4 separate regions of the Homo sapiens genome follow, and regions 2, 3 and 4 are each linked to region 1. Evidence: fine-mapped expression QTL. A gene starts in region 1. Each other region holds a variant in brackets. All regions are shown on one strand. Distances are between the middles of the regions. Region 1 holds the start of DOCK1 (dedicator of cytokinesis 1). Region 2 overlaps DOCK1 (dedicator of cytokinesis 1). Region 3 overlaps DOCK1 (dedicator of cytokinesis 1). Region 4 overlaps DOCK1 (dedicator of cytokinesis 1).

The links. PIP is the estimated chance that this variant, and not a neighbour inherited with it, causes the effect. A credible set is the group of variants that fine-mapping cannot tell apart.
Region 2: its variant is the best candidate, but not a certain one, in a credible set for the expression of DOCK1 in testis (GTEx, PIP 0.79).
Region 3: its variant is the best candidate, but not a certain one, in a credible set for the expression of DOCK1 in sigmoid colon (GTEx, PIP 0.80).
Region 4: its variant is the best candidate, but not a certain one, in a credible set for the expression of DOCK1 in lung (TOPMed, PIP 0.71).

The regions. Positions count from the first base shown.
Region 1 is chr10:126,902,053-126,910,165 of GRCh38, forward strand. It overlaps DOCK1 (dedicator of cytokinesis 1), which reads left to right and starts at 3,376. Exons shown (of 52, transcript NM_001290223.2): 1 at 3,376-3,511. The coding sequence starts at 3,466. It overlaps LOC105378550 (a long non-coding RNA gene), which reads right to left and starts at 3,326. Exons shown (of 2, transcript XR_946449.3): 1 at 2,508-3,326; 2 at 1-2,390. It overlaps LOC124900289 (a long non-coding RNA gene), which reads left to right and starts at 3,679. Exons shown (of 2, transcript XR_007062336.1): 1 at 3,679-8,113. RefSeq lists an enhancer at 4,397-5,145.
Region 2 is chr10:127,408,117-127,416,229 of GRCh38, forward strand. DOCK1 (dedicator of cytokinesis 1) reads left to right here. Exons shown (of 52, transcript NM_001290223.2): 41 at 921-1,062; 42 at 1,197-1,275; 43 at 2,724-2,808; 44 at 7,036-7,122. Among named protein-coding and RNA genes, the nearest start is that of NPS, 140 kb to the right of the region's middle. The variant G/C (reference allele first, on the strand shown) is at 4,720.
Region 3 is chr10:127,447,706-127,455,818 of GRCh38, forward strand. DOCK1 (dedicator of cytokinesis 1) reads left to right here. Exons shown (of 52, transcript NM_001290223.2): 52 at 3,627-4,811. The coding sequence ends at 3,722. Among named protein-coding and RNA genes, the nearest start is that of NPS, 98 kb to the right of the region's middle. The variant G/A (reference allele first, on the strand shown) is at 4,960.
Region 4 is chr10:127,230,992-127,239,104 of GRCh38, forward strand. The region is part of intron 27 of DOCK1 (dedicator of cytokinesis 1); the gene reads left to right. Among named protein-coding and RNA genes, the nearest start is that of INSYN2A, 38 kb to the left of the region's middle. The variant T/C (reference allele first, on the strand shown) is at 3,611.

The DNA of each region.
Region 1 (8,113 bases):
ACCAGGCAAGATTTTGCTGAATTTACCTCCTGAATTTGCAGTGCACATGTGTGAAATTTTTTGGAATTAAAAAAATTAAAACTGTACTTTTCAAGATTTAAAACTGTAATATTGATTGTGTTCTTCATGGCCCCAAAGCAAGATTCTGTTGTATCTTGGAGGAGGGGGGTCACTACTCTGAAATCCCAGTGATGGGCAGCACTGAGCAACTGAGAGCCTCAGCATTCTTGGGCTTGTTCACACCCACAAGCTTGGCACAGATCCAAGTCCTGCAAGATGCCTGGGAGGGCAACTGAGACCTGTGGCCCAGCCACATTGACTCAGGAGGTAAAAATGTCAACAGGCCACAACCTCCAGGGCTCCTGGAATTGGAGACGAAGCCAGTTCTGAGCTTATGCAACCATAGGACAGTGAGAGAGGGCCATGGACTCGATTTAGAGCCACAAGATGAGAGCACTGCTGGAGCACCGTGGGGATGCTGACAAATCTTCTCAGGGCTTCAAGGACCGTGGCTACAGGTACATCTCAGCCAAACTTGGGCACATGTTGCAATCAAGGGACTGAAGCTACAACCACCTGGCCCGTGGTCCACCTGGAGTTTTGTTTTGTTTGTTTTTGAGATGGAGTCTCACTCTGTCACCCAGGCAGGAGTGCAGCGGTGCGATCTTGCTTCACTGCAATCTCCACCTCCTGGGTTCAAACAATTCTCCTGCCTCAGCCTCCTGAGTAGCTGGGACTACAGGTATGCGCACCCACGCCCAGCTAATTTTTGTATTTTTAGTACAGACAGGGTTTCTACTAAAACCCTGGTTGGCCAGGCTGACCTCGAGCTCCTGACCTCAAGTGATCTGCCTGCCTCAGCCTCCCAAAATGCTGGCTGGGATTACAAGCATGGGCCACTGTGCCCGGCCCCACCTGGAGTTTTAAAATTCTGATTTATAAATTTATTATATGACAGTCTACCAAAAGTATGCAAATCCGGCACTACACTTATTTATGCATTCAGTGAGTCACCTTTATCTGAGTGCAAGTGGCAACTGTTCTAGAAAATGGGAACCATGAGGTTATCAAAGAACCTGGAGGTAGGGTCAGATGAGGAAGCACATCATTATGATGTCTTACACATGCAGTCATGTCTCCTCTTATAATCCTAAGACTCACCTGTGAGATTCCTATTACAGCCCCTAGTTTACATGTAGGAATATCAGAACCCCAAGGTTTAGAAACAGAACGGCCAGAAACAGGAGGAGGATGGCCATGCAGCTGGGCGTGGCAAGGCCAGGCCTCCCAAGTCTGCATGACTCTTAAGCTCCTGGCCATTCGTTACAGCACGCCATCTCCAATGCAGAATCACACCAACAGAACTGAAACTGCACATTAAAGAGAAGGCGAGTGTCACCAAAATCTGTTTCCCAGGCTTCTTTGCAGAATTCCAAATTCCTAGCACGACCAATAAGGCCCTTCTTCTACCTCTGCAGCCTCAATTTATGTCACTTTCCTGTTGTTCCCTATGCTTCGGCCATCCTGGCCTTTCTGTGCTCTGAAGGAGTGGTGCTCCTTCCTAAACCAGGGCCTTTTCACGTGCTGTTCCCACTCCAGTTCACCTAGCTGGTTTCTGCTTATCCTTAAAGTCTGGGTTTATCTTATTTCCTCAAGGGAGGCCTCCCTGCTCTGGAGCAGGTCAGGCCACCATGTCCTTTACCGTAGAGCACCCTACTTGTCCTGGACAGCACCTTCACAGATGCTTCTCCTTCAAGGGGTCAGAGTCACCAGGCCACCACTACAGCGCCTGAGCCCCGGAGGTTTCTGATTTCCACAGAAAGCTTCAAGTGCATGCTGTGTGTGAGTGAGCCTGGCCACTTCCTCTGTGGGACTTCAGTTCCTTATCAGTAAAACAGAGCCCGTGGCTTTCCATGAATGTGGGGTTGACTTACCAGAATGCTCAGGTCCCACGTTATCCTCTTGAACGCAGCAGCTTTCCTCTAACCCACGAAAATGGAAAAGCTCCTGTGCCATTCCCAAATACTTATTTAATCTGCATTCTGGGTGGCCCCTAGGGCAGGTGACGGGCATTCTCTACCGCAGGATGGTGCCCCACCTGGTCCTCCCCAGGCCCTGTGGCCATCCTGGCCACCTCCCTGTGGGCTCTCCCAGCCCTGCTGTTCAGCACTGTCCCTACCTCACAGAGGTAGGGACCTCTTTTTCTTACCTTCTTCCTTTTCTTACCTTCGTTCCTCCAATCCCTGACGGCCCCCAGACCTACTGTAGTTGTCTCTGTGTCTTCGGAGAGAAGACACCCCATTAATGTGCCATGAAACCAAATTTATTCCATTTAAAGGGCTGCCTTCATTCGGAGGCTTTGTCCATGTCTTGGTTTTAACCTCTCTTTTCTGAAATTACAGTAAAAATAAATAGGTGTGTGTTGCTTTAACTTTTCCCTTGGAGAAATCTGAAGCCCCCACCTTTTACTGTCATGGGAAACACCAGGGCCTGAGAAGAACTCCCACCTCGGGCGAGGATGCCGTTCCTGAGCCCCACGCGTGGCCTGGGCTTTCCTTTCCCTACTTCTCTCTTCCCCCGACTTCAGCAGATCCTGAGTCCCACAACTATTCTAGCATTAGCTTCTGCAAGCCCAGCTGGGCTGAGGTTTCTGCGGCTGCTTCCTCTTGGTCTCTCTGGAAAACTCCACTCATTCAGCACCCAAGCAAGAGGTCACCTGTCTGGAACGCACTCCCTCGGCAGCGCTGTGCCACCTCTTTCCACCCCATTTGAGTGGCCGGCACTTACCTGTGCTGTTTGTTACCTGACGTGTCCCTTCTCCCACCTACCAGGCAGTTGGTGCGGCGCTCCCAGCACACTCGGGCAATGAGTGGGCAGGCGCTCAGGTAACGTTTGTCGAATGAATGAATGAGCCACGTGCTCAGGAGGACCCTTTCCAGAGCCTCTGCTGGTTTGTTCTGCTCCGGGACTCTCCACCAGGGAGAAATCCGAGCTGGGGACCTCGCACCACCAGGCTCCGGCCTAAGCCCGCGCCTTGCAAGCCGCCCGTTTCCTACCTCCCGTAGAAACCCCCCGTCCGTCCCGCCCCCCTAAGGGCGCACCCCTCTCACGGCGTGAGCGCCAGCCCCGGGAGCTCCAGGAACTCAGGAGAACCCCGCGGGGGTGCCCGGGTGCGGAGCGCGGGGCTGGGCGCACTGGGACAGAGGAAGGGGAGCCCCGGCGACCGCGGGGTCGGGGCCCAGGGTCCGCGCCGAGGGCGGGCGCAGAGCCCGCGGCCGTCCCGCCTCCCGCCGGCGCTCCCGGCCTTTCCCATCCGGCCCGCGACGCTCCGCCCGCCCCGTCCCACATGACGCCGCCTCCGCCGCAAACTTTTTCCTCCCCATCCTGTCGCGGCTCGAAAGGAATGGAAAATGGCGGCCTAGACGCGGAGTTTCCTGCCCGACCCGCGGCGGCTCCGGCGGCGCCATGACGCGCTGGGTGCCCACCAAGCGCGAGGAGAAGTACGGCGTGGGTGAGCAGCGCCGCCGCCGCCGCGCCTCTCGCCCCAAGCCCAGGCTCCGGCGGGGCGGGTGTGCCGGGCGCCTGTTGCCGCCGCCCCGAGCGGCCGCCGGGCCGGGGAGAGGCGCTTCCGCCCGCGCCCGCGCCGCCGCCCCGCTCGCAATGCCCGGCGACCCCGGCCGCCCCGCGCCCCCGGCGGCGTCAGCTCCAGCCCCGGGGATGCGGGTCGGGAACACGAGGGGGTGGGGTGGGAATGGGGGCGGGCGCGTCCCTCCCTAGGGTGTCCCCTCCGACGCCCGCTCCTCTGGACCTCTGCCGTGGAGCCCCCCGGGCTACCCCCAACTCCCCGGCCCCGGCCGCTGCTATCTGCGCGGCTGGGCCCGTCAGGGAAGCCCAGGGGTCACTGTCTCGCGGCGGCTTCTGCTTCTTGGATGAACTTGCGTCCCGCGTCCGGGCTCTGGGTGGGCGGGCTCAGGTCGGCGCGGTCCCAGCGGATAATTCCGCCCTTTCCCGGCGGGGAGGAGGGGGCGCGACCTGGGTGGCCAGCGCCCCTTGCCCCTCGGCGGTCTCGCTGGGGACCGTGTGGGACCTTGGAGAGAAGGCGAGCGGCCGAGCGCCCCAGTGGCCCCAGGCCTGGAGACCCTTCCGGGAGAGCGGGGGCCTGTTTTTGCTCCGCGGCTCTTTGTCGCTTCCGAGGGGGGATGGAAGGAGTCGGGTTGCAAGTTTACATTTCGGACCCGAGTGCGCATTCCTGAGAGGGAGGCTTTCCCTTGCGGCTGAATAGACGGGCCCGTCCGCGTGGGACCCGCATCCTTGCGCCCCGGGGACCCGCAGCCGGTCGCCGAGGCCTGCGGACGCCCACCTCTTCGTGATCTGCGCGCCTGGTGTCGGGACTGGGCCGTGGCTACTCTCCTGCTCTCCCGGGTCCGGGATCTTCCCAGTTGGTTTTCGGGCTTGCTATTCCCCGTCCCACCATCCACAGACATCCTTGACCGCCTGCCTCATCCAGGCCACTCGACCCGACTGGGAAGACCTTTGGTGGTCTCGCCTCCCACAGCCCAGGCTGTGTCCTCCAAGGGCACCGTCTCAGCAGCAGCCCCGCGCCCATTCTGTGCCTGGCCCGTGCTGGACCTGCCCGACCCTCTGCTGGTGTGGTTCGAATCCTGGCTCTCTGACTTTTGGGAAGCGCCCTGGCAGCCCTTGTCCCCGGAGCGCTCTCCTTTCTGTGAACAGTTGCTTCTCTCTGCTGTCAATGACTTACAGTATGCCCTGACCACGGAGCCAGCTGGACAGTGGTCACGGGGACAGTCCTGGGACAGCCCTGGGTCCTACCGGGCCTGCACTTAGCTTGTTCCACATGCTGGGAGGCATAGGGGGCCTCCTTGCTTCAGGACCATTATGACTGAGCTTCCTCCCCATCTCCCCATTTTGCAGATGAGGAAACTGAGGCCCAGACACATTCACAAAAGTGCAGGAGAGCTCATCTGACTGCAGACTCAGTGTGTAACCTGCACCCTGTGCACCACCTAATGGATTCAGTCTGGGGCACTTGGCACGGGCCTTCAGTCTGCATCAGAGGCGAGAGGTTCGGGGTGGATATTCCACCTGAGAATGCTTGGGTTGTGGCGACAGTGGGGGTCCCTGCGGGGGTAGTGTGTAGAGGAGAGAGCTGAGGACTGACTCCCAGGGAACCTAGCACCAGCACACGCAGAGAGAGAGGAAGAGGTGGATAGGCAGGAGAGGCAGGAGGCTGGCAGAGGAGCAGGCATCCCATAGCCCTGGCCCTGCTGAGGAAGCAACTTAGGTGCCCATGGCCAGGGTGCAGTAGTGGCCATTGGGGGTGTAGTGGGGGCCATCGGGGTGCAGTGGGGGCCATCACTGCTCCCATTCTACAGAGGCAAGGAAGAGGTGGATTGCTTGCCTGAGGTCACATCACCAGTAAGTGGTGCCTCCTGGGTGTGAAGTGTGGCCGCCCTGGGTTCAGCTGCCACAGTGTCCTGTGCTTGCCTGCAGATGGGGAGGGCTTCTCTTTGGGACGCCACATTTTAAGAGACCTTGTTACCCTTCGTCTGCCCCCAGAGAGACCTGGATGGTGTCAGTTAGGATCCTATAGTGTAGCTGGATGGTCTGGAGAAGACTGAAAAGAATGTTCGTAGATGGGAGAACGGGGTCTCCTTGCTGGGGAGGAGGCTGAGGGCCAGAACAGGGCGGTGCGCTTGAGTCTCACACCTTCCAGAAGCTTCACCAGCGCTCATGGTGGTGACTTCTAACATCACACCTCTTGCTAATACTTTGGTTTTAAGAAAACTCCATGTTTGATTATTAAGAAAAAATAAATTTAAAAAAGTTAAAAAAAGAAAAAATAGAAAACTGTTGGAAAATTTTAAAAGGCGAAAAGTATCTGGGATGGTTTTGCCAGGAAATGCTAGGAAAGATGTGAAGGGCTGAAGGTAGAGAAGAGAGTGGCTGCTGTGCTTCCTCTCACTGGGTGCAGATGACAGCTTGCTGGGTAGACAGTAATGAGACAGCACCACTCCATCGGCATCCAGAGGCACTTTAACCAGAGTCCCCCATCAGGGAGGGTGGGAGGGGAGCTGAGCATGAGCGCAATGGGGCCATCCCAGGCTCCCCACTTGTCTGCAAGTGTGCAGTGGGAGGATTTTAGTGGTTCTCACGAAGGATGCTGACTGGGAAGGATGTAGGTGCTGGGATGTAGGGATTTATTGCCAGTAGGTGATTGGCTGTTTCCACCTAAGGGAAAATTACTGGAGGACCCCTCCACCATCCTTACCAACTCCAGCATTTTTCGGAGCTTAACAACAGGGCTGTGTTTCCCTGGAGGCGCTCTGGTGGCTCTGTGGGTGGACCACACTTCCACTCTGGCCACTTGGCCCATGAACGAATCACGAGGGGTAAGAAAATGATAAAACTCCATCTCATTTGGAAACATGAATCACAGCTTATTGTTTGCAAGTACTTGGAATCTGTTAGAAGCATTGTTTGTAAATGAGATACTTCAGTTGTATATTTATTTTGTAAAATTGGGAAAGGAGTAAACAGCTGATCTGGGGTTCCTTCTGCAAAGGCAGGAAATGCTGGTTCCTCCCAATTCATTCCACTGGGGGCTGCCTGTGAAATTTACCAGCCCGCGTTTCCCCCTTGGTTTTGAGTTGGTGGGTCATGTTTACGGGCCTGGCATATTAACAGGCATAAACCTTGACTCAGCTGTCACACTGGCCAGATGATCTTTTCTCTCACAGCCCAGTAGGCAGTTTTATGTCCCGACGTCAATAAAATTATGTTGCCATGGATCCTGTTCCTAAGATTAGGTGAAAAGATGCAGTATGTTCTAGAATCACACGTGAGGACCATGTGCTCACTCACTCACATCTCAACAATGGTGTTGAAGGCAGAATAATGGTCCCCAAAAAGGTCCACGCCCTAATCCCCAGACTCTGTGAATTCAATATGTTACATGGCAAAAGGGACTTGGCAGATGTGATTCAGGTTACTTGGAATTCGTAGATGGGAGATTATTCAGGACCATCCACGTGGGCACAGAGAACTTTGGCTGTCAAAGTTGTGAAACAGGCAGTCAGAAGATCCTATGTTTGGAAGCACAGTTGCTGGCCCTGAGATGTAGGGGCTCACTTGCAAGGACCAGAGAGAGGCCTCAGGGAGCTACGGGAGGCCCCTAGCTAATGATCGGCAGTTACAAAGAATTGGATCCTGCCAACACCCTGAATGAGCTTGGAAACAGATTTCCTCCCCAGGGCCTCCTGCTAAGAGCCCAGCCAGCCAACACCTTGATTTTGAGACCCTGAGCTGCTGGGCGTGTGGCCTGTGGAACTGAGATAATACATTTGTGTGGTTTTAAGCTGGCTGGGTTGTGGGAATTTGTTACGGCAGCAGTGGAAAACTAATACAGATGATGGGAGAGAAGCTTGCAGGGTGAGGCTCTCTTGCACCCTTGAGATCTGTTACTAAGTTCATTGAAGGTAGTGAACCCAAGTGTGCTCTTCACTTTGGCCACTTCCAAGTGCAGCTCTCAAATGGGATGGGGCATTGGCACTGCTCTTACTCATAATGGGACCCTTGAGCAAATTACTCATACTTTCTTAGCCTTGGTTTTCTCATCTGTGAAGTGGAACCAAGCCTGCTTGCTGCCGAGTCGTGAGGACTCGCTGAGATGATGTTGGCAGAGAATTTAGCCCTGCGTTTAAGATATGCCAAGTACTCAACGAAGCGTTGCTTTTGTTAACTTTTTATTTAATAAAGCATAAAGTTTAGAAACATAGTGACAAGTGACTTCTGTGTGCGGTTAACGGGTTGCTGGAAAAATGCCTTTCTTCAAAAGTTGGTTTCTTGATAGTGTGTTTTGCTTCCTAATTGGGGTAGAAGTCACATTTGCTCAGTGTGAGGAGCCTGACTTGCGTGCCTTCACATTAGCTCTAAGCAATGATAATTGCTAGGAATAGTGTGATATCCAAATAAATTTGGGAGCGTGGGAGTTGATGAGAGATCTCTTTTGTTATCTAGAGTAGCAAGCAAGCTGCTACTTTGGGGAAGAAAAATTAGATTTGATCATAAGTAAATAGAAATGCAGGCATTTTCA
Region 2 (8,113 bases), 510 kb after region 1:
CTGTGTCACACTCAGGCAGAAATGACCTCAACAAGACAGCCTCGTGGAAGGAAGAACACTTACCTACTTAACTCCCCTCCCCGCCCCGGACTGCCTAGTCTAGCCTAGCCGTCTATAACAACCCCAGTGGACTGACATTCCATCTTGGAATTTATGGAGGTGACAAAAGTGTCATTTGAGATGGACCAAACCCAGCCCTTCCAAGAAGAGCTCTGTATGTTTTATCTTGACATGTGTTGATGAATAATGACCTGCACACACATTCTGAATGCAGGAAGGGAAGTCCTGCTCTCCGTCCATCGCCAGTCACTCACTCGGGGGAGGCCAGGAACTTAGTAGCTCTCGGCTCTGGTCTGCATCCCTTCCCCTCGGGTTCTGCTCGCCTCGGCTGTGTCTCACAGGAGTCAGCGCCCGGCGGCCGTGTGCAGGTGCTGGGGCCCCACCTTAGCTCAAGCTCTCTTAAATTCCTTATGGCAGAATGAAAACAACTTCATTAGGGCCTACCTGAGAAGAAAACAAAAACAAGAAAAAGTGTGGACATCATTATCCACTTGTCCTGGCTGCCTTGCCCCCTTCTAACCATTTCATGCCCATTCTAGTGTGGGCTTCTGAGTGCTCATTTGGTTTTTCATATAGTTTTTAAATCAGTTGTTACTGTCAAGATGAAAACATATCACAGATGTTAGTAGCGCAGTGCTGAGTGCTTCTTAAACAGTATTAACTTACATGCTTGATGACCATGTGTTCTTGATTAACAAAGCCAACGCAAGTACAAAAAAAAATAAAAATTACAAGTTGTTCTTAAATTTAATGACATTTTGTAAGAACCCGTAAGGCATATTTTAAGGCCAGCATATTGCATGTGAACTCTTCCTGGCCCTTTCTCTGTGGTGTTATGAAATGAATGTCACCCTTTTCAGGGAAAAGTTTTCATTTACCGAGGGAAAGAGTATGAGCGCCGGGAAGATTTTGAGGCTCGGCTCTTAACTCAGTTTCCAAACGCCGAGAAAATGAAGACAACATCTCCACCAGGCGACGATATTAAAAACTCTCCTGGCCAGTGTATCCTTTAAGACAACCTCATCAACTCTGAAACCATGGTGATGCCATTCATTTGGGTGGTTGGGTGTGGTGGGGGGCCTCTCTCATGGTTGATGTCTATGCTGCCTTAGTGATCCTTAACCCCCTCACCTCAGATATTCAGTGCTTCACAGTGAAGCCCAAACTCGATCTGCCTCCTAAGTTTCACAGGCCAGTGTCAGAGCAGATTGTAAGGTAATAATCCCATTTTTCTTACCCAACGTGAGGGTTGTAAGAGGCTGTGTACAGATCTCTTGCTAATAATTCCACCTTTTAAAGGACGGACTTTGGCCATGGATTCGCTTTCCAAATGCTCTTTCTGTCCTCTTTGAAGAGCAAGGGAAGCTAATTATTTTCAGCATCCAAAAAAAGTGACAGGAGATGTTAATCCATGTGCTGGGAGCGTGCAAAGCCTATTCCTTTCCCAAAGTCAGCTGACAGCAAAAACCTAAGAGGGCAGTGGAGGCCGTCTGGTCTCCTTTATAGACCTGCCCTGTGGGGTACAATCCCCTAGGGAACTTCACAGCAGTGCACAAGTCCTGCCTGTTCCCAGCAAAGCCAAGTTCATACATGTGAGTGTGGCCTGAATGTTTGCATTTTAGAAGGCGGGAAATGGGATTTGCACATTTGCTCCTGGTGACACACAGGAGAACCCTTCAGCCTTACAGCACAGCAATTCCATAATGTAGGGTTATGAGGGGGCTTTTAAACCTCCTGAGTCAACTGTCCATATTTGAGTGAGATTTTCTGCCTGTCAGTTGTATCGCACCTGACTTAGCAATGGCATAGAAAGACCTGCTTTAGCAGATGTGTTTGATATTAAGACTTTTCTGTTCTGTTTGATCCATGTTCTGGTGAAAATATTAATCTCTTTGATGACCTCATATTCCTTAGGATCAGCTTCATTTTGCTTCCTGAAGTTTGGTGGTTTCTTTAACCTTTCATCGTTTCTTTGACCTTGCATCAGCAATAATGGGAAATAAACTGGGACCCTGTTTATTTACAAATGATTGCTCTCGCAAGGCATACATTTTAAGGGTTGCAACATTTTTTTTCAGAGGCCTTAAGCAAATAGTGACGCTTAGAGCCTTCTCAGATGCAGTAGTTTCTTTTGCTGTGGAAGCCTGCCTGCATTTCAGTGCAGGGGAGAAATCAGTCTCAGTCTCTCCACGCCCTGCCCTGTGCATGCGGAAAGCCTGCCTCGTACCCCGACCGCGGAGGCAGGTTACTTATGTTTCCTGTGTGTCACTCTTGGGGTGGTTGCAAAATCTGTGCTTTGTAGATCTGAAACTAAGGTATGTAATACTTTTTTAAAATAATAATAAACACATACGTTGAACACAAAAGCTTTTTTCTCTCTCCTTCGCTTCACCTTTCCTCTGTTTTTGCTCATTTCACTCTTACTCAGCTTCTGTTTTCCCTCGAGGGTTGGCAGGGACAGGGAAGAGGCAAAAACTCAAGTTAATTTTTCCACCTGCCAACATTTCCCTGGCTGGGAGAGGACACCAAGGCGATGGCTTCAGGTCAAGGTTAGGGACATTTTACAGGAGGCAGTGACATGTTCTAAGGCCAGACCCCGTGTCCAAAAGCAAATTGGCTATTTGCCGGGTTAAATATCTAATGATCTGTCTGTCTCTGTACAGTTTTTACAGGGTGAACGAGGTCCAGCGATTTGAATATTCTCGGCCAATCCGGAAGGGAGAGAAAAACCCAGACAATGAATTTGCGGTAAAAAACAAACAAACCACCAAACCAAACAACAAAAAATATCATTCCGCCACCAGTAGAACTGCCACTGGAGAAGCGTGGCCTCAGAGGCAGCCACGGAGCCATATTAAATGTCTTTGTGTATTATGTGCAGAAATCTTAATCTATTACCCCCTCCAAAGTTAGAAAAACTAATTGCCATTTCACTAACAATATGACTAAGGTCACTGAGATATTTAATAAGGAGACTGTGCCGTCCAAATGCCGGAGCTCCCATATGAGTAGCGCACTGCCTTCCCTGCGAGCCCCAGGTGAGAGAGCAGGTGCCTGTCATCTCTAGTTAAAAATGGACCCACCGAGTGCTGAGGTGCGGGGTGCTGACGTGGCTTTCTGCAGGTGACACAGCAGTCAGCACATGAACTGGATCTGGACCCGGGTGCTCATTCCTCATTCAGTATCCAGCACCTGAACTTCAGTGGAGCACAACACACAACTGCAGGGTTGACCCCAGCACTACTAGCAATACGGACCGGGTTATTCTCTGTGGTGGGGACCATCCAGTGCATCCAGGGATGTTTGGCAGCATCCCTGAACACTGCCTACTAGGTGCCAGTGCCACCACCCCAGTTGGGACAACCAATCAAAAAGATTTCCAGGCCAGGCATGGTGGCTCACACCTGTAATCCCAACACTTTGGGAGGCTGAGGCAGGTAGATCAAATTAGTTCAGGAGTTCGAGACCAGCCTGACCAACATGGTAAAACACTGTCTCTACTAAAAGTACAACATTAGCCGGGCGTGGTGGTGCACGCCTGTAATCCCAGCTATTTGGGAGGCTGAGGCGGGAGAATCGCTTGAACCCAGGAGGCAGAGGTTGCAGTGAGCCAAGATCGCTCCATTGCACTCCAGCCTGGGGAACGAGAGTGAAACTCCATCAAAAAAATAAAGTTTCCAGACATTGCAAAATAAAACATCTGCCCCTTGTTGCAAACCACGGCATTCGAGTTGTAGAAATAACAGCAAACATCTTTAGAGCCTTTTTTCTTTATTTTTTTATTTTTATTTGTTTATTTTTTTTGAGACAGAGCCTCGCTCTGTCGCCCAAGCTGGAATGCAGTGCCATGATCTCAGCTCACTGCAAGCTCCGCCTCCCAGGTTCACGCCATTCTCCTGCCTCACCCTCCCAAGTAGCTGGGACTACAGGTGCCCGCCACTACGCCCGGCTAATTTTTTGTATTTTTAGTAGAGACGGGGTTTCACGGTGTTAGCCAGAATGGTCTCGATCTCCTGACCTCGTGATCCCCCCGCCTCAGCCTCCCAAAGTGCTGGGATTACAGGCGTGAGCCACCGCGCCTGGCCCTAGAGCCTTTTAAAAATTCTACATACAAACTGCTTTCATGGATTCATTTGTATTTTTATTTTATTTATTTTTTTATATAGAGGTGGGGTCTATGTTGCTCAGGCTGGTCTTGAACTCCTGGGCTCAAGTGAGTGGATCCATGTTGAAAAGGCATCAAATAAGCCATAATTTTTTTAAAATGTTAATGTTTATCCGTCTTGCCTGGGAAACCTCCGGAAATCCTTCTGTACTCCTGTATTGCAAGGAGGCATTAGCCCGGGGACCCCCAAGGAGGACCGGCTCTGCTGAGAATGGCTTCTCTTGTGTGCCGTCCGAAGGCATCTAGGCTGCAAAGGTCAAAGGTGAATTAACACCCTACTCCTGACCAGAGCAAAGCTCGGAACCCTTCCAGCAGGGTTGCCTCAAGTAAAGAGTGGTGGCTACCCAGTCTCCCTCCCAATCCCTCAGGGGTCTGCCAGTCATGGGATCCTCAGGGCAGTACCTGTGAGTCTCCTAGCTCAGCTCTTAAGAGCCATGGGGAAGTTCCTTCCAGCCCCGAGGCCAGATTCCTTGTGTGTCACCAAGGAGCACAAA[G/C]GAGCTTGGAGTTGGTGAAATCTGCAGTATTGTGCAGTCCCAGCAGGCTGGTTGTTTGAAGATTATGTTCACCCTATTTGTTGGTGAACCCAGCACCCTGGACCTCCTCCAGGACTGGTCACTACAGTGTCCATTGTCTGCAACAGTGCGGGCAGAACCTAGGCACGTCCAACCTGGACACCCTCGCTAAGGGCAGTGGCTTTCAGAGCAGACTGCACCTGTTACTGTCATCATAAGCACTAACGCTAGTGTTTATATGGAGTCCCTCAACTGTGGGATTTATAGGCAGTTCTTGAATTTCCCTCACACCTCTCCCATCTGGCAAGTAGATATATTCTTAGACTATAAAGAAATAGACACAAGGAGGTCAAGTGAGCCACTGGAGGGTGCGCGGCCAGTTGGGTGCAGAGCTAAGAATAACGAAGGCTCTTGACATTTTGAGCTATGCTGAGCCTCAGAGGCTATGCTTCTTCTAAATGGCCCTGAAATCCCCTAATGGCCCTGTTGAGGTCCGGGCACTTGGACAAAGTGTTCGGAAGCTGCAGGATTTGGTCCTTCACATGCCCCACAAAGCCTTAGATAAGTGCAACGTCTTTTGCTCTACTGGGAAGCCAGCCTCGGCCCCTCCAGCGGGGAGCCTGGCTCCAAGTGCAGGGGGCTGGGGAAGCTGCCCACCAGGCCGAGAGCAGTGCGAGGTGGCTCATCCCTGCAGACCTGGCAAGGGGTGACTGATGTGCTGGGGAGTGAGGGCACTGACGAGGAGGAAGATGAGACAGGGCCTGCGTGAGGAGGAGCTGGCCGTAAAGCCCAGGATGGAACCCAGAGGTCCGTCTCAGGGCATGTTGACATGAGAGAAAGCACTGGAATCTGGTCTAGAGGTGGATGTGAGAGGGCCAGACCTGTTTCCATTGCCAGGACAAAAACCTGAGGGAGCCGTCCCCATGGGGCAAAGAGGACTGGTGTGGGACACGGAGGCCTTGCCTGTGTCCTTATGGCTTCAGCCAGCTCCTTCCCTTTCCTCCTATGGAACGTAAGAAGTTTGGGATAAATGCTTTCCAAGATCCAAGTCAGTTTTCTGAAAATTTTTTTTTTTTGAGAGAGAGTCTTGCTCTGTTGCCTAGGCTGAAGTGCAGTGGTGTAATGTCAGCTCCCTGCAACCTCCGCCTCCCGAGTTCAAGCGATTCTCATGCCTCAGCCTCCTGAGTAGCTGAGACTATAGGCACATGCCACCACATCTGGCTAATTTTTGTATTTTTAGTAGAGACGGGATTTTGCCACGTTGCCCGGCCTGGTCTCGAAGTCCTGAGCTCAGGCAATCTGCCCGCCCTGGCCTCCCAAAGTGCTGGGATTACAGACGTGAGCCCCCCACGCTTGTCCCAGTTTTCTGGAATGACTGGCATTCCATTATCCCATCTGCTTAAGTCTAGATTCCTGTTGACACTCAGACTGCTCAGTGACCCTGCAGTGCAGGGAGGTTGGAATGGCAGAAGATTGTTGCAAGCTAGACAGTACGAACGAGGCAGTAGGATAAAGGATTTCCAGTTGACCCCTGCATTGGAGTTTTTGTGCAATCCTTAAAGAGTAGTAGAATTGTATTTATTGGGTTAGAACAGTTTCCTGCAATAGGTAATATACTGTTTTACAAAGAACACATTGTCAAATGATGTTTTTATTTAAAATATGCATAGACACACTTTTTAATACTTAGTAAGAAGTCTTGAACAATAGATACTAAAGCATATAGGTTATCAGCTTCAGGTAGGGGATGGTTTTTCCTCCTGCTCTTTCCATATCTTTATGTTCTCATATAAACATATATTAGTTACGTCAAAACATTTTAAAGTTTAAAATACCGACTGGTTTTATCAGAACATCAGAGGTCACTTTGATTAAATCCAGTCTCCCAAAGATGTATTTGCCCCTTTTAGTTTCTTATGAACACTGTAGCTAATGTAAGACTTCTTTGGAGCCTTCCTCAAAATCTGTTTGCTCAAGAGGGGCTCCCCATACCTCATTTTGGAGTATACACATCTTTCTCACTCACCTAGTATACTTTCATTGTCAAATACCAGAGTGGTGGGCAATGTTGGCTAGGGGACAGGGGATACTTTGATGTATCCTGAGCGACCGTTAGGTAGAGCGTGGCTTGTGAGGTGCTACCTGAAGGCACACATGCCCTGTGCTGAGCACCACAGACCCTGTCCTGCTGAAGGACCTGACTCCTTTGGAGTTATTCTATAAATCCCCCTTAGGGCAGAGCTGTCCACCTGCTGACATCCTTCTAACCCGTGTTGTGTGTGTGTGTTTCCTTTGCAGAATATGTGGATCGAGAGAACCATATATACAACTGCATATAAATTACCTGGAATTTTAAGGTGGTTTGAGGTCAAGTCTGTTTTCATGGTAAGGATGGCCCCACCCCAGAAGGAATTGTCCGTTCCCTTCCTCAATACAGTCTGCCACGCCTTCTTCACCTGCTCATGCCCCGTGGTCACTGTGGCAGCGTGCACACAGCAGACTCTACAGTTCCCATAACCACCCCACCTGTTCTTGAGAGCATCGATATCTCCTCGCCTAGCCATATTTTAGTGGAAATGCTGTGTAATCACGACCAACTCTAGCTTATCAAAAAACCAGAATGAAGATTTCATTTCTTCTTACAATGTATTTAAATTCAGTCATAGCTGTGCTGTTTTGACAATGCTTTGTGTTAACCAAGTGAAAAGTTGAAGACAAATTCCAGTCTACATAAACTTTTTTAAAGATTTTTTTCCTGATGGTTTTATTGCCATTTACATGACAAACAACTATTAATTAATAGTCCTTGCCCATTTCAAGTAAAAATAGCCTGAGAACATACCCCTCCCTGACCCTTTTTAAAGAAATAACGATTTCCAGCTCTCAACAAAGCTAAACTTTGCTTTGAGATGGGGCAGTTTCATTTACGTGAAACTCACATTTGCAGTGAGCTATTGGACAGTTTCATTTACATGAACCAGAGTTGGGCTGCAGATTTATTGACAGTATTGAAATGTCAGGGCCAAGGCAACTGGCAATATAAAAACATCTGATTGAAATCTGTACGTTTTTGTTCATGTGTCTCAGTGCCTTTTGTTTTCACCTGGCAAGAACTCACTGAGGGGGTGGCACTTGCCATTTAGTTTTCAATGAGTCCCCCCGAAACACCTGATTATTTGTCTCTAGGGGCCGGCATCTCTCTGCCCAGCTGCGTGTCCAGCGCCGAGCCTTCTCCTTTGCCCACACCAGCATGAGCTATGGGCAGCTATGGGCCACTCTCTGAGAGGTTGCCCGCAGTCAGAGCCACTGCTTTATACTCAAAGCACCCAGGGCTCTTCACCTACCCCTCCTGGGGTCACTTTCTGCTCTGGAGTTC
Region 3 (8,113 bases), 550 kb after region 1:
GCAGTAAGGACTCCAGTGGGTAAGATCTGTGGCTCTGCGTCATTATCAATAACTGCATCAAAAAGCACATTTTGATATCATGCCTCAGAACGAGGAAGAGGATAGACATTCCAAGGTTGTCATCGGTTATCATCACCATGGAGATCATTCCACTGGAGATGCAATTCTAATGACATTTTGATTTTTGAGAAGTAGCTTTTCTATCAAGAGGTCTGACTTTTTAAAGAGGTTGGCCAATATCGCCCTGTATGGCAGGCACCTGTTGTACACCTGCTTGGCCCTGGAGAAGCTTGTCTCCAAACATCCCTCCAGGCAGCCTCACCTGGTGCTGGGAGCTCCTGGGTGGTGACAGGCACTCACCTTACGGAGACTGCAGAGGACAGCCAGGTTTGGCTCCTGGGCACAGTCATCCTCACTGTGCCCCCACCCCTGGGCACCCTCCCCAGTGCTAGTTCGGGGGTGCTGACCTGGCTTCCTCCAGCAGCACTGGCCTTTGTAAGCCTAAGCAACCTGCTGGAACCCCTCTTCAGCGTGAGTCCCTGAAGCTGGTACCCCCCAGCAGCTGTTTTAGTCATTCATGCCACCCAAAGTGCCTTGTGCCAAACAGCCCCTGGGCCTGCCTGCCCGTACAAATATTAGTCAAAGTCATGAAAAGCCATTTAAACAAGCACCTCAGTTACCAGTTGACAGTTCTAGAAACATTCTTTTGAGATCCACCCCGTTCCTCTCCTGGTTCTCAAGGATGCTGTCAGGCGTCACTCATCCCTGCGGGTCCCAGCCCCATCCTCATGTCGGGCCCAGGCATGTGTGGAGGGCAGCATGAGTGGGATGGAGGCGGGCGAGCGATTGACTCAGCCACGGCGGGAACTTCTGCTTCTAGGCTCAGGCCTCCCCAGGCCATGTTATTCACAGCCTTTGACAATTAAATCAGTGGTGTCTGAAGGGTAAAATATCCCTCTTCATATGTGGACAGCTGGCCGTATTTTTTTTGCTATCCAGCCTTAGTGAAGTAATTATATGGCCGCAAAACTCCTGTAGAACATTGAAAACATGAGATTGTTGGGTGGCTCTGTTTTTTTCATAATGGTGAGACATGGTTTTTTTTTTTATTTTTCTTTAATAAACAATATAAATCCCACGTGCCATTTCTTTTTCTTTTTTTTTAATGGAGACTCGTTGACGGAGTGTTCCACAAGGTCATTACATCCCTTATGAGAGGAGTGGAAGAGAGAGGGTGTTTGTGTACAGCATACGTATTTCATCATTCCCTTTGTATCAGAAAACTAAACAAGCAGTCATCTTTAATATCAAAGAGGCAGATTGCTCTTCTGAGACCCAAGTGCCATTTAAACAGGCTCCCTCTCCCTAGAGACGCCTCGATGGGGAACCGGTCCTGGAGGAGGCACCAGGTTCCCCTGTGAAGAGGGCTTTCTGGCAGGCTGGAATGGTTTGTTGCACCACAGAAATGGAAGCCGGACCTTCCCCGGCCATTTCTAACTACTTGTGAGAGTAAAAGGAGATTCGGGGGGGTCTAACAAGAATATTGGGTTGCTTGGAGTATTGTTTCCCTAACAGCTTCGTTAATTGGTCACATTCTCTTCTCTCTATTTTATTGCAAAGGCAGGAATGTTCCCCCTAGTCTCCCTACACTAGTAAACTGAAAATTCTAAACTTAGAATTACAGCCAATTCCTCTTCTTGTTACAAATCAACTCCGGGGTAACATTTTATTGTCTCAATTTCTTGGATACACCATTGTGGGTTACTGATGCCACATACAGTTGATTAAGTAAGGGATAACATGGATTAGCTCTCTCTCAATTGATAAAGGGCGTGTGAATTCAATTAGATTAATGACCCAGGTGTCTTTGGTCTTTGTTTCTTGTTTAATTTACTTGCAGCCTGAGTGCATGCTCAGGTGACACGCTGGTGGTTAGTATGTCATCATTAGGCAGAAGCGGTTGCATTTCCTGGGGTGCCTCCCTTTGCACAGGCCCTGAGAGCTGTTCTAGGATAATGATCATCCATCTGCCATGATGGGGGTGTGATCAATATCCTCCTGTCACTCTCATTGATCAGCCTCAGGCTTGTAGGCAACTCTGTCTTTAGTTGTTGCCACTAAGCTGTCATTTCTTTCCAAATGGCTCTTCCTGTCAGTAATCTGAGCTTACTGAGTTTATCACCATTAATCATTTTGCTTAATGGTGATAAACTTTTGACATGCTCATACTTGGCATAGAGGTCATTTGCAGCGCTGTGTTGGTATCAGGCTGTGTTAGTGTGGTCCTTACCTGCTCCTCATTGGCCTATCAGTGAGTGTGGCTTTCACATGTAAACAAACAGTTTCATCAGACCTCAAAATAGATGTCTCTTTTAACGGTTCTAACCAACCTTAAAAAGACTTAATTGTTGTTTTACCTTCCTTAATATAAGGTCATACACTCATAGGACATCTTTATATCAGCTTTACTTTTCCACATTTATTCTCCTCTCTGTGTTAAGCATTAGGTCATTTTTGTATTTACTAGTCTGTGAATCAGGAGGAAATCTGGGCGATGAGTGAGAGACTACTGCGTCACTGTCTATCCTTGAAAACCTCTTTTCTCACATTCAGCTAAATGCAAACCCACACTGAGAGGCTGATAAAAATCCACTCTTACCCTTAAGTTAGACGATAGTGTTCTGTGATTTCATTCTGGTTCTTCTGCCTGTGGCATGCTCCCACTTACCCTGGTCTGTTCACTTCTTCATTCATTTGTTTACTTACCTGTTCATTTCTTCATTTATCCACTGACTCGTTTATTCACTCATTCATTTATTCACTCATTCATCCATTTTTCTATTCGATTGACCCATATTTCTAGAGAGTCTCCTGCACATCAGGTGTGTGTGATGGGCATGAGGGTCCCAAAAGCAATAGGGTGCAGCTGCCCTCAGTCATAACACTCCAGCCAGGTCCATCAGCAAGGGGTTTGCTATTATCTTCACATTGGAAATTAATGTTCTTTTTTGGAATCTAAAGTAATATATGCCCATGAGCTGAAGCCAGCCAGCCAGCCACCTGTTTCTGTGAATAGTTTTCTTGGAACACAGCCACACCCCTTTCTGTACACACTGTCAATGACCGCTTTTCGGCCACACCAGTGGCATTGAGTGGCTGCAACAGAGACCGTGTGGCCTGCCAAAAAGCTGGAAATATGTACTGTCTAGCCCTTTCCAGGAGAAGCTTGCTAACCTTTGCCCGAAGCTCAGAAAGCAAAAGAAGGTCTCTCATCTCACCCCTGGAGAGTGCCTCTAAGGACTTATTTATCCCTTAGACAATAGATGGATAACTTGGTCGATAGCATCTAGATTTAAAAAGGCCACGCAAAGGGCAATGGTACCTCTCAGGGGCTGTGCAGACGGTGGGAGAGTGCTCAGAGGCGTCAGAAAGGCCCAGGCCCATAGCAGCCCAGTCTTGAGCCTAGTAGACCTGCCAGCCCCAAGTCGGACAGGATGGAGCCCAACTCATGTGGGGAGGATGGTTCCGGCTGAGTGGCTGTGCCAGGTCAGACCCCACCTGGAGACGGTGTCTTTTCTGTCAGGACATCAGTTATGTGACATCTTCCCCATCCTCATGTTTTTTAGCATCTGCCACCTCCACTGCCCAGCAAAACTCCGCCTCCTCCCCCTCCAAAGACAACTCGCAAGCAGGCATCGGTGGACTCCGGGATCGTGCAGTGACGTCGCAAGCCTCTCTGGAAAGAGTGTGCTGCCCCTCCCCATCTCCATGCCCTCTCCTTCTGTGTCCCCTGAGTCTGCTGTTTACCTCATTGGGCCTGTGATGTTAACATTTCGTGCGACTGCTTTTTCTTCAAAGGAGTTCAGTTCTCACCATGGAGTGAGTGGCCTTTAGCGTCATGGAGCAAGGTGGGTCTGGGAGGTAGATATGGGTCCGGGATGTGCTATCGTAGTTATCAGAGTTGGGGGCCTCTGAGTGTGTCTGGCTCTGAGAGAGTCTGAGTCTTGCCCAAACATTCTTTCTTTTTGTGCCAAATGACTTGCATTTGCAAAGAGCTCAATTGCTCTGAGCTCAGCCAAGTAGGAGAGGCTAGGCCATCACTCTTAGGAAGCTGTGTAGTGATGATGTATAAGAATCCTCCTCACTGTCATGGGATGTTGTATCCAGCCCCTCCTTGTTCCAGCCGGTGGTGTGACTTCGTTGGTTGAGGTGTGTCTCCAACCTACATCAGACCATGAAGTTCAACCCCTCCAGGGAAGCTCCTGATTTCCCCTGCATAATTGAAAATAGGATATTTCTCAGCTATTGAACAGTTACTAATTTATGGGGTGGAAACAGCATTAAGAATACTGAATCAAATGGAAAAACAAATGAATACAGGAAGATAAGTGTTCGTTCTTTTCTGAAAAAGAGTATGTGTACCACAAGAGCTGGTTTTAATTGGGTGAATTGTTTTTGTCCTCATTCTGTACAGAAATTTGTATATATGATGGTTCTTAGAACTTGTTTTAATTTTTGTGGTCCTTCCGTTTATTATAATAGGCGTCCACCAATGATTATCCATATGTGTTCTTAATTTTTAACTGCTGGAAGTGTTAAAACACACACACACACACACACACATTTTTTTTTTGAGAACTCCAAAGTCCTGAAAATTTTGGTGGACAATGATTTTTAAAAAACTAACTTTGTATAACCTAATATTTGTATTCTCTCATCTATATTTTTTTATTCACTATAATCATGATACTCTTCTAATAGACTTAAAAGTTAATCATTGACAACGAAAAATAAAATGTTATTTTAAAAGACTCACAGTGTCTGACCAATTATGTTTTCATCCTTGATTGTAAAATACAGACGCTGCTGTTTCTGTTCTGCTATGTTAAAGTGCTTGGTGACACACATTTATATATGCACCTCTTCCTCCAACATTGTTTTTAATCCTCTCTGTTAATT[G/A]TGTCTGATCTGGAGCCCAGATGGGAAGTGCCCGTGTCCCGTGCATGGCTGCATGTCCTGATAGACAGGAGCTAAGCAGAGACCAGCTGAGTGCTTCCCCATCACCAAAGCCAGAGGGCTGTGGGGCTGCAGATCATGTGGGCCTCTTTTCAGCTGCTAATTTAAGAAAGGGCTTTGGTTAATGGGTGTGTGATTTAGCTGTAGAGGTCTGGACATGGAGAGCTTTCTCCAGGGCCTATCTGGCTGGATCTGGGGTGGCAAGAAACAAGGAAGGCAGGGGGTTCTCTTCTCAATGGACGGGGCTCTCACCTCTGCTCCTGCCAGACGTGTGGAAGCCATAAGGATGTGCCCTCTGCCCATCTAACCCGGCCTAGAAGGAGGCTGCTGTGGAGCCCAGGAAGCTGGGAGGCTCTTCCTCCTACTCAGGTGCTGTCCCCAGCGTATTCATGCTTGTAAATATCCAGTCCACCCCTGAGAAACTGTAGGCCTGTGTGAATGTGGGATTTTTTTCTTCAAGAATCTTTACTGTTTCAACTGTTGCACCAAGATAAATATTCATCTTCTGTCGAGTGTGTGAGAAACTGAATATTATCCACAACCCTAGAAATCATCGAATGGGCACACCCATGTAGGCGACCACGGAGAGCCCAGCCTGGGGACAGGTTGTTTTTGGGCAGTCTGTGCCTCACATTGTATAAGCGGCCACCAGAAACGGAAAGAATAGGCCGGGCGCAGTGGCTCACACCTGTAATCCCAGCACTTTGGGAGGCTGAGGCGGGCGGATCAGCTGAGGTCAGGAGTTCAAGACCAGCCTGGCCAACACGGTGAAACCCCATCTCTACTAAAAATACAAAAATTGGCCGGGCATGGTGGCAAGCGCCTGCCATCCGGTAGGCTGAGGCAGGAGAATTGTTTGAACCTGGGAGGCAGAGGTTGCAGTAGCTGAGATTGCACCATTGCACTCCAGCCTGGGCGACAAGAGCGAGAAATCTGTCTCCGTCTCTATCTCCATCTATAAAAATAAAATAAAAGTATTTATTTTTATAAATATAATTGTATTTATAAAAAATAAAAATTATAAAATTTATAAAATGATATAAAATATAATTGTATTTATAAAAAAATAAAAACACAGAAAGAATAGTGCCTGGCCCTGTGATAAATGATGGTTTTCTTGTGGAATGACGTGTGGGCTCCTGCTCTTCCCCCATCTACCGGGTTAATCCTCGCGCTGCACAACCCTGGCTGGAATCCCCGCCCCACAACCCCCCAAGGACCTTATATCCGTCGGGGATCTCTAGAGCTGGGAGGTTTGCAGAGAACACAGAACAGAGTTAAAGAAAAGTGAAGACAGCCAAAAGGTTGCAGACATTTCCTATTTATTAATATGAATTACAAATATGCTAATATATTCACCAGTGAGTAAACTTCTCAAACGTTTCATGCAGATGCAACATTTCCTCAGCTTGTAAATCCGTGGATGGGCTGCAACACAATAATCAGAGACAAACCGGCCTCTGCGCACAGTGCCTGCTACATGCATTCCTTCTGGAATGTGGATCCAGGGGAAGGTTTGCCTCTGTACATGCGGGGACATATCCCTTCTACACAGAAACACTATTTCTTAACCTTTTTTTTTGTTTTCACAATTACCTTTCAAGGAGCCTTTTTAGACATTTTTTTCCCTCCATCACTCTTATGATGAAATTTTAATAGTACAGCCATACTGTGTATCACTTAGACTATATACTGCATATCTATTATGTACTTTATGTATACCTATGCTTTTTTACATTAAAAAAATAAGATTTTTTGTTTGTTTGTTTCCCAAGTACCAGTTTTCAGGGGGTGATACTGCCTTTTTGCAGACTCATGCTCCAAAGCAGGAATTGTGAGCTTCTTAGGCTCTACTTTTGCTCTGGTTTCCAGGATGCTCAAAGCCAAATTTTGCCCTCACACGTTCAGTTAAATTTTCGTTTTATTCTCCTGCCTTCCAAAAGCTTTCTGGACTATTAAAAATCCATCTTTACTTTAACTACCTAGTTTCATATGCACTTTCATCAAATCTTTATTCAAAGTAGTTAGTATATAAACTGTATTTTATAAATGGAAAAGTCTTTTTCTTACTTGAAAACCACCCTTGGTGCTTGAAGATTGCTTCCTAGTATTTAAAGAAATTATTTTTTAATCAATTTTAAGATTATTCTTTCATGCAAAGATTTGATCGTTTAAATTTCTTACAGATTTCATTATCTTCTGCTCTGGATTCTTTTATGTTATTGGACTTTGTTTCATGTCCACAGAACTCTTTGTTGGTTTAATGGATTTTCATTTTTGCTTTTTAGTTCCATCTCTAATTACTTTTTAATATTTTACTTAACTTTTTAAAGTCTGTTTGGGAACTTCTGCCACCACACTTTTTGGCAATCTGCCTTTTCAGAATTATTTAAACATCTACTGTTTCATTGATGATGGCTCAAAAAAATAGGGAACCTGTAGGCCAATAAGCCTTTGTACCCAAACAAGCTAGAGTTGTTCTGCCCTATTTGTCTCCCACACACGAGGAAACCTCTGCTCCTCCAGGTTGTACAGTGGCCTGAGTGCAGTGTCACTAGCTGGAGAGGGGAGTGAGGACTCCCTGGATGTCTGATGTGTGGCAAACCTCCTGGGTTAGTTTCAGCCCCGGACAAAAGAGTTCTGATGTGGTCTTAAGTGTCCACCTGGCTGGACGGCAGTAGCCAGTTAATCAAAGCAACTGTAAGTGTTGCTGTGAACGTATTTTGTAGATGTGGTTAACATCTATCATCAGTTGACCTTACATAAAGGAGGTGACCCTTGATAATGTGGGTCAGCCTCATCCCATGCGTTGAAGAGGCCTTAAGAACAAAAACTAGAGTTTCCTGGAGAGGAAGGAATTCTGCCTCAAGACCGCAGCATCAGCTCCTGCCTGACTTCCTAGCCTGCTGGCTTGCCCTACAAATTTTGGACTTGCCAGCCCCTACAATGGCTGAGCCAATTCCTTAAATCTCTCTGTATACACACACACACACACACGCTCTGACAAAGGACAGACCATAGCAAACCTCCTCTCATAAAGTGGTATTTGGCAGAAACAGGTGACTTTAGGGATACCTGGAGTAGAATCCAAGAATCT
Region 4 (8,113 bases), 330 kb after region 1:
TTATAGTTTTCAGTGTACAGATCTCTCTCTTTCTTGGTTTAATTATTCCTAAGTCTTTTATTTTTTGAAGCATATTTTATCACACGTTTGATTACTTTTATTAATGCAACTTTCATTAAACAACCAGAAATTTTTGTTTTAAGACTCATCTGGTAATTCTTTTCTATCAGAGCAGGGTTAAAGTTTGCTTTGAAAATGATCACATGGAGATCAAACTCTCTTTAGCGAATGGGTAGACTGAATCCAAGGCTTTTTTTTTTTTTTAACATTTAAATGCCCTCTCCACAAGCCCCACCACAAAGTTATTTTGAAAATACGAATTCAGTACTATTCGATACAAGAAAATGTTGGTGTAGTCAGTGTCTTACAATGTATATTTTAAGTGTATTGTAAAAAAGAATATTCAGTGCATGAATTTCTTTTTCTTATTCTTTTTTTTTTATTTTGAGGTGAGGTCTCTCTCTGTTGCCCAGGTTGGAGTGCAGTGGCACAATCATGGATCACTGCAGCCTCCACTTCCTAGGCTCAAGCAATTCTTCTTCCTCAGCCTCCCCAGCAGCTGGGACTTCAGGCACACACCACCATGCCTGGCTAAACACATTTCTTTGGAAGAGTGCCATTTAGCTAGAGGCTTGGGGATCTTTAAAAATACTAGAAATGACATCTATAACTTTGTCAGAAGCACATTCACTCATTAATTGATAGAATCATTGTCCCCTTATTTAGACTCAAGGCTTTTGTTGGAATAAATGTTTTCCCTTCCTTCTTGTTTGTGTTAGGCTTTCTTCTTTTCTTTGCCTTTTAATGTTCTTTCAAACAAATAGAAGACTGAGTGCATTCGCTCAGACATCTTCATTTGTTCAAATAAACTCCATTTTTTCAGACAGACTTGAACAAATGGAGAGACAGTTCGTGTGTCACCTAGGTAAAGGCTGTCTGCTAGGGGTCCTTCAACAAGCAAAACCAAGGTCCCTGCACACATGGAGTTCATATTCTAGTGAGGAGAGACATAAACAATTTATGCAATTTGTGTCAACCTGATTGGTGCATGGAGAAGGCAGAAAAGGAGGGAAGGAAGTGAGCCAGGTGGTCAGCTGGCAGAGAAGCGTTCCGTAGAGGGTACAGGTAGAGTACAATCCTGAAGGGTGCAGACCTTTTAGTTCTGCATCTTGGTGGTCATATGTATTGGAAGAGCTTGAGAAAAATGAAAATACCATTTAGCTTAAGAAGTTGTGAGTTATCTGCAAGTCAACTCATTTCAGGAGTGGAAGAATCCCCGGAATGATTTCCTAATATCAAAATGTATGCAGGTTTCTCTTTTGAATGTCTTGTATATTTAGAGAGGGTGCTGTACAAAGTCTCTTGTTTTCCATACAGCAAATTCCAGGATCCCTTGCTGGATACTGTGGCTGGAGCAATGTGAGCAACAGAGGCAGAGTCCGGGAGGTGATGTGGGGCTGGGGCACTCATCATGGCCTTATAGGTCTGCGCCTTGGTCCACATTCGTACTGCAGTTATTGTTTTTATTTGTGATAATGATTTTATACTAAATAATGGTGATATTCCTACCATATTTACCACGTAGTAGTGTCTGAGGTTTCTGATTCTTTCGAACAAATGCCTCCTGTTGACCCTGTTTCCATTTAACCAATCAACCTAGATTTCTGCTTTTTGCCCCTTCATGACACCAACACAGTGGGTTGAAATTCAAAACAAGTGGACTTCATTTCATGATCTCATGTGCTTCTTATTTAAACAGGAAATAGGAGCATTGCATTTGACAACTTTTAACTGTGTAGCCAGATAATTAGCTTGTGAAAAACATACTCAGTTTTACAAACAAGTTGTGATTCTGGAAAGTAAAATTAGTCATTATAGTACTACTTTGCGGATTTACCTCCCACTGCATGCTGTTAAGATCTCATCTAAGCAAGATTAATAAAAAATAAAAAATCTTGACTAAACATCTGTTGCAAAGTGACTTTCAATTTGGCTCTTCACCATGTGACTGGTGATTAGAGTTTTTGGTTTAGGTTAAGGGGATTTGATTTGATTTGGCATGGTCCCTTTTTAATTTTATGTATGAGGCAAATAACTGAAATGTCCCTGATTGTCATAAGTGAAAAAATATCATTAAAATATTTGAATTTTGTTCAAGGAGATTAATCTCTATAAACCAATGTTTTGTATTCCCTAATTAGAATTATGGTAGTCACCAGTATGATCAATGCTAAGTGTTTATTTGGTAATTAGGAAGTGCAAGCTCTAAATTTTGATAAGATTGATGAAATGGCCTCTTCTCATATTTTCATTATGTCCGTATAAACATAACTTAGAAGTTGGAAATATGAATTTTGTCTACATAACAGTGGACATGCTACAACAAACAAATATATAGCTACAAACAAAGCTATATATTTACATTGATATCCCCTTGATTATTTTTCTCAATGAGCAGACATTCAAGAGATTTTTTTCCCCCACAAAATGTGATGTGAAACATCTACAATGTATACTTGCCAAGTGCATAACTATTAACTTACTCCAGGTACCAGATGGTCTTATTAAGATACTAATTAATGTCAACTCTGACAAGTGAAGCTAATGTTTAAATTCAGCTGCCAGTAAGTTCTCTGTCAGAGCACTCCCAATAGAATGTGAGTTATATGCGGGCTTCTAGAACAATGTCCAAAACACAGTGTGCCTTCGCAAAGGTTTCAGCGAACGGATAAATACTGTGGCTACATTCCCTTTCTAGGAAATAAGAATTATAAAAAATGTTGATCTTCTAAGTTTAATTTTATTATAGTTTGACCTTACATATAAGTTGTGTTTTGAAGGTACCATTCTTCCCTTCTTAGTAAAAATGTAACAGCATCCATACGATGTGATTTCGGCTGCTCCATTTTATTGTTGATCTACTTGTTCTTCAATAATAGAACTCTTGTTTTATAATAATTTCCATACCATGTTTGTTAACCAATAATATCCATAACCATAACTTGAGGCACTTTGTTATAGCTGATCCTGAGGTTAGGAATACTTCCTTGACATGATACATACAGTATATTAAACCAACATTCAAAATAATAGTTAAAAATTAGACACTAAAAGCGTGCCCATTAAAATCACTTAAGAAAACAGGCGCTTGCTGTCATTATTATAATTTGACATTACCGTGATAGTGCGGCCTGAGGAGTAAGTCTAGAAGCAGAATTAAGACCTACAGTGATTAGAAAAGACAACACAAAAATATTGACAGATGTTGGCTTGATGTATTTAGAAACCCTCTCCAAAGTGGGGGAAAAATAGTTTGGAAGTAATAGGAGAATTCTGTAGGTTCAATTGCAAAATGTACACATCAAATTCAATAGTTTACCCTAATATACAAATAAAAATACACAAAATGTTCAAAGGGTTATTTAAAAAAGCACTCCCTCCAAAAGACACAAAAATAAAAGGAGCTGTTAAAGATCCGTATGATGAAAACCACAAAACATTCCTGAAATGGCATAAAAATAGACTTGAACAAATGGAGAGACAGTTTGCATGTCTAAGTGGGAAGGCTGATATTGTAAGCCTCTTCAATTAATTTAAAAATTCAATGGAA[T/C]TCCAATTTGAATCCCAATAGGACCTTGTTTCAGACTCAATAATGTGTTTCTAAAGTACATGCAAAAGAATAAATTGGCAGGAATACTCAAGAAAAATGTGAAAAACAAGGGTAATGTGAAGTAGGCCTTGCAATACTGAATAGCAAAACCATTTGAAAGCTACAATAAAGTATTAATTAAATTGAAAGTACTCTGTTTCTATATAAGTGTAAGAGCAAGAAGGAATCCTTTCAAATACAACATTAATTACATATGGCTTATAGGACATGGTGATTTTCAGATTTTCTTCTTTATTTTAAAATATATAAAATATATACTTTATATTTTATACATATAAAGTATATGGATTTTATACATAAAAAGTAAATAATATATGTACATTTTATACATATATAATAAATACATATAAGTATATATACTGTATAAAGCATATATACTTATACATAAATCTATATAAAGTATACTTTATATACTTTGTATGTATAGAATACTTTATATATGTATACTTTAAACATTATATACTTTGTATACTTTATAAAGTATAAAATACGTATATTTTATACATTATAAATGATATACTTTATATTTTATATAGTAACATCCATTCTTCTTCCTTCTAAATTTTGACAGACAATACAGTTGTGTAGCCACTACCAAATACAAGATTTAGAATATTTCCATTTCCGTAAAAATATTTCTCATGCCCCTCCATAGTCAGTTCTCTCTTCTTTGTCACTCTAGTACTGCCTTTTCTAGAACGACATTAAAAATGGATTCATACAGTGTCTAGCCTTCTGTATCTGGCTTATTTTGCTTAGCATGATGTGTTGGAGATTCACTCATGTTTATTTACCAGTAGTTTGTTCCTCATTCTTGCTGAGTACTATTCATCATGCAGATATGCCATAATTTATTTGTTTATTTAGTAGGTAGTAGGTGTTTGGAGTGTCCCCTATGTGTGGCAATTATGAAGAAAGCTCTATAAATACTTGTATAGAAGTCTCTGTGTGGGCATATCTTTTCATTTCTCTTGGGTGAATTCTTAGAAGCAGCGTGGTTGGGTCATGAGGTGAGTATATTATCAGCTGTATATGAAGCTGCCAAACTATTTCCTAAAATGGCTTTACCATTTTGCCTTCAGACCAGCAACATGAGTTTCCATTGTTCTGCATCTTTGTGGTGGTTGTTTTTTTTTTTAATTTTAGCCATTCTAATAGGTATATAGTTATATTTCAGTGTGGTTTTAACTTGCGTGTTCCTATTGACTAGTAAGATAGACCATGCTTTCATGTGCATCTTGGCCATTTGTGTTCCTTTTTTGATTAAATATCTGCTCACATTTTTTGCCAATTTTTGGTGGGTTATTTTCTTCTTATTGGTTTTTGAGAGTTTGTCATATACTGCGGATGGAAACCCTTTGTCAGATAGGTGTTTTTAAAAATATTTTCTCCAGTTCTGCAGTCTGTCTTTTTACTTTCTGTATAGTGTCATTCAAAGACCAAAAATTTTTAATTTTGATTTAAGTTCAATTTATCAATTTTAAAATTTTATGTTTCATGCTTTTTGTATCCTAAGAAATATATTCCTATGCCTAGGTCACAAAAGTTTTCTATGTTTTCTTTAAAAAGTTTTGTTGTTTTAAGTTTTGCATTTAAATCTATGATACATTTTGAGTCAATTTTTGTATACGGTTTAAGGTATGGCTCCTTTCTTTCTCCCTCCCTCCCCCTCTCCCCTCCCCTCCTTCCCTCTCTCCTTCCCTCCCTCCTTTGCTCCCTCCCTACTTCCCTCCCTCCCATCCTCCTTCCTTCCCTTCCTTCCTTGGTATTTGGGTATCCAACTGTTTCGGCACCATTTGTTGAAAGTACAGTTTGCACATTGATCCTTCTTGACACGGGTTTTTTTTTTTTTTTTTTTTTTTTTGAAATCAGTTAACCCTATGTGTGCAGCCAGTTTGTTTTATTTGTCTGTCTGTCCTTTCCAGTACCACACTGTCTTGATATCTGTAGTTTTATAATAAGTCTTAACCATATTGAGTCTTCCATTCCATGAATATGGTATATTCCTCCAATTTTTAGGTCTTATTTGACTCCCGTGTCAATGTTTTGTGTGTTTCAGTATACAATTTTGTGACTTTAAAATATTCTTCTGTATATGGTTTTGTGTTTTATTCTTCATCACCATCATCATCACCACCATTCATTTATGTAGCCAGCCACTGTGCAAATATCCTTAAATACATATCTAATTAAACTTTTCAAGAATTCCAGATTTTAGAATCATGATCCGAGTTTTACAGATGAGGAAAACGAGGCTCAGAAAGGTTAAATAGCCTGTTAAAATTTATACAGCAAACGTACCCTTGGTCAAGTGATTATTCCAAATTGTCTGCCTTTGAAACCTTTACTCTTGACTCCTAAACTAATTTTGTATCATTTATCTATATAACTTTTGCCTTAAGACCAAAAAATATTGGCCGGGCGCGGTGACTCTCGCCTGTAATCCCAGCACTTTGGGAGGCCGAGGCGGGCAGATCACCTGAGGTCTGGAGTTTGAGACCAGCCTGGCCAACATGGGGAAACCCTGTCTCTACTAAAAATATGAAAAATTAGCCGGGTATGGTGACGGGTGCCTGTAATCCCAGCTACTTGGGAGGCTGAGGCAGGAGAAGCACTTGAACTCGGGAGGCAGAGGTTGCAGTGGGCCGAGACCACACCATTGCACTCCACCCTGGGTAACAAGAGCAAAACTCCATCTCAGGAAAAAAAAAAAAAAAGACAAAGAGTATTATAAACTAATGAAAAGAGCGAGGGTGATGTTGGGATCCATATTTGGCAGGGAAGCAAGATATTTGTACTCTTTCTTACAACTTCCACTGTATTTTGTTAAGACCTGAATACACCTCTACAGTGGACAGTCCAAATAAATAAGCCATTCCCGTACTTAAGAAGCATGCATATGGTGGAGCTTTATGTGCAAAAGCAACAAAGCCCTCTAGTTATATTTTAGCTCCTCAGATACTTTTCTGAGTGATTATTCCTGCTGCTTAAATCTCTGTACTACTCCCTTTTGCCCAAGTTAAAATACCTAAATCATTGGTTGTAGTTCTATTATTGTATTCAGTAATAGTTCCTTTGATTGGAAAAGAAATACCTCCTTTTTAGAATTCCCTGGCAGTCTGTAATAACTCCCTTTTATAATATTTGTAACATTGTGTCTTAATTAATTGTTGTCATATAAGTCTTCTCACTAGATTGTGAGTAGAAGCTGTTTTCCTTTGGCTTTTTGAGATGTTTCATATGTACAAAAATGTTGAATCAGTATTAGTGTTAAACACACGTACCCACCTAAATTCACTACATATTAACATTTTGCCATGTCTGCATTATCCCTGCATGTGTAAACTTTCTTTTCTGACATACCAAAAAGTTGGTCACAGACACAGGGACACATCATTCCTCGCTTCATGCAACTCCTATGAATAACTGCTCTGTAGGCACAGGAATATTATGATGCCTATGAAAATGAACAATGATTCCCGAATAGAATGTAAGATCTCTTCCCTGTGAGGTTTTCCCTTTGACCTTAAGGGTCCCCACCATTTGTCTTGTCAAATGCTGTATACTCTGAATCTGTCTATTCATTTCCTCATGATGGAACATTTTTGGCAAAAAAAGTAACTACTTAAGTGATCCTGTGTGCTTAGCATTCTACCTAAAGGCCCATACTATAATTAGGAAGAATCTATAGGGTGTTGTTTTCAGATTGAGTGAGTGTCTTCGTCCCCAAAGACCTTTTACCTCGAGGTTTCAGTGCCCATTGAGGAGCCTCCTCTGGACCAACCATTCCTTTAGGAGTTGAAACCTTCAGTTATCAAGTTCTCTTCTTCATTCCGTGTTTTTTTGGCTCATAGTCTTCCGTAGGTCACAGCTTTACTTTTGCCCTCAACCCTGCCACGTCGCCTATATGTCTGTGTAGACACATGGATTTTTTTCTCATTCAATTTGCTACATTTGTTTGTTGTCATCGTTCATTTTGATATTCAGATTGTCTCAAGCATCCCACACGTGGCCAGGGGAGCCTCCCCACACCACCTCCTGTGTCCTTTTGACATGGCCCCACTAGCCTAGAAGAAAGACGTGACCCAGCCTCCCACTGAGGTCATTCTGGTCAGGGGCTGTTTTTATCTCCTGCTGACCTACTCTTGGGAACTCAATGATGTCAACACACTGCACACTCATTGAATGTTGGTTGAGTGTTGCACTTGGCAGTGCTCTTCATGGTTTTGAATCTTCTTGTCATTTTAGCCTTATCCCCTCCATTTCTCATGACCCATTCTAGAAGGACCCATTTAGGGAAGCTTCAATTTCCCCTGGGGTGTGGGGAAAGTGAGACAAGGGGTGGAAGTAGAACCTCAGTGGGTTGTGCTTCCTGTGTTGATGCTTTCCTGCACACCCTGCTGGACAGGTACAGGGCTACTGCAGAATTCCTCGTGGGTTCCC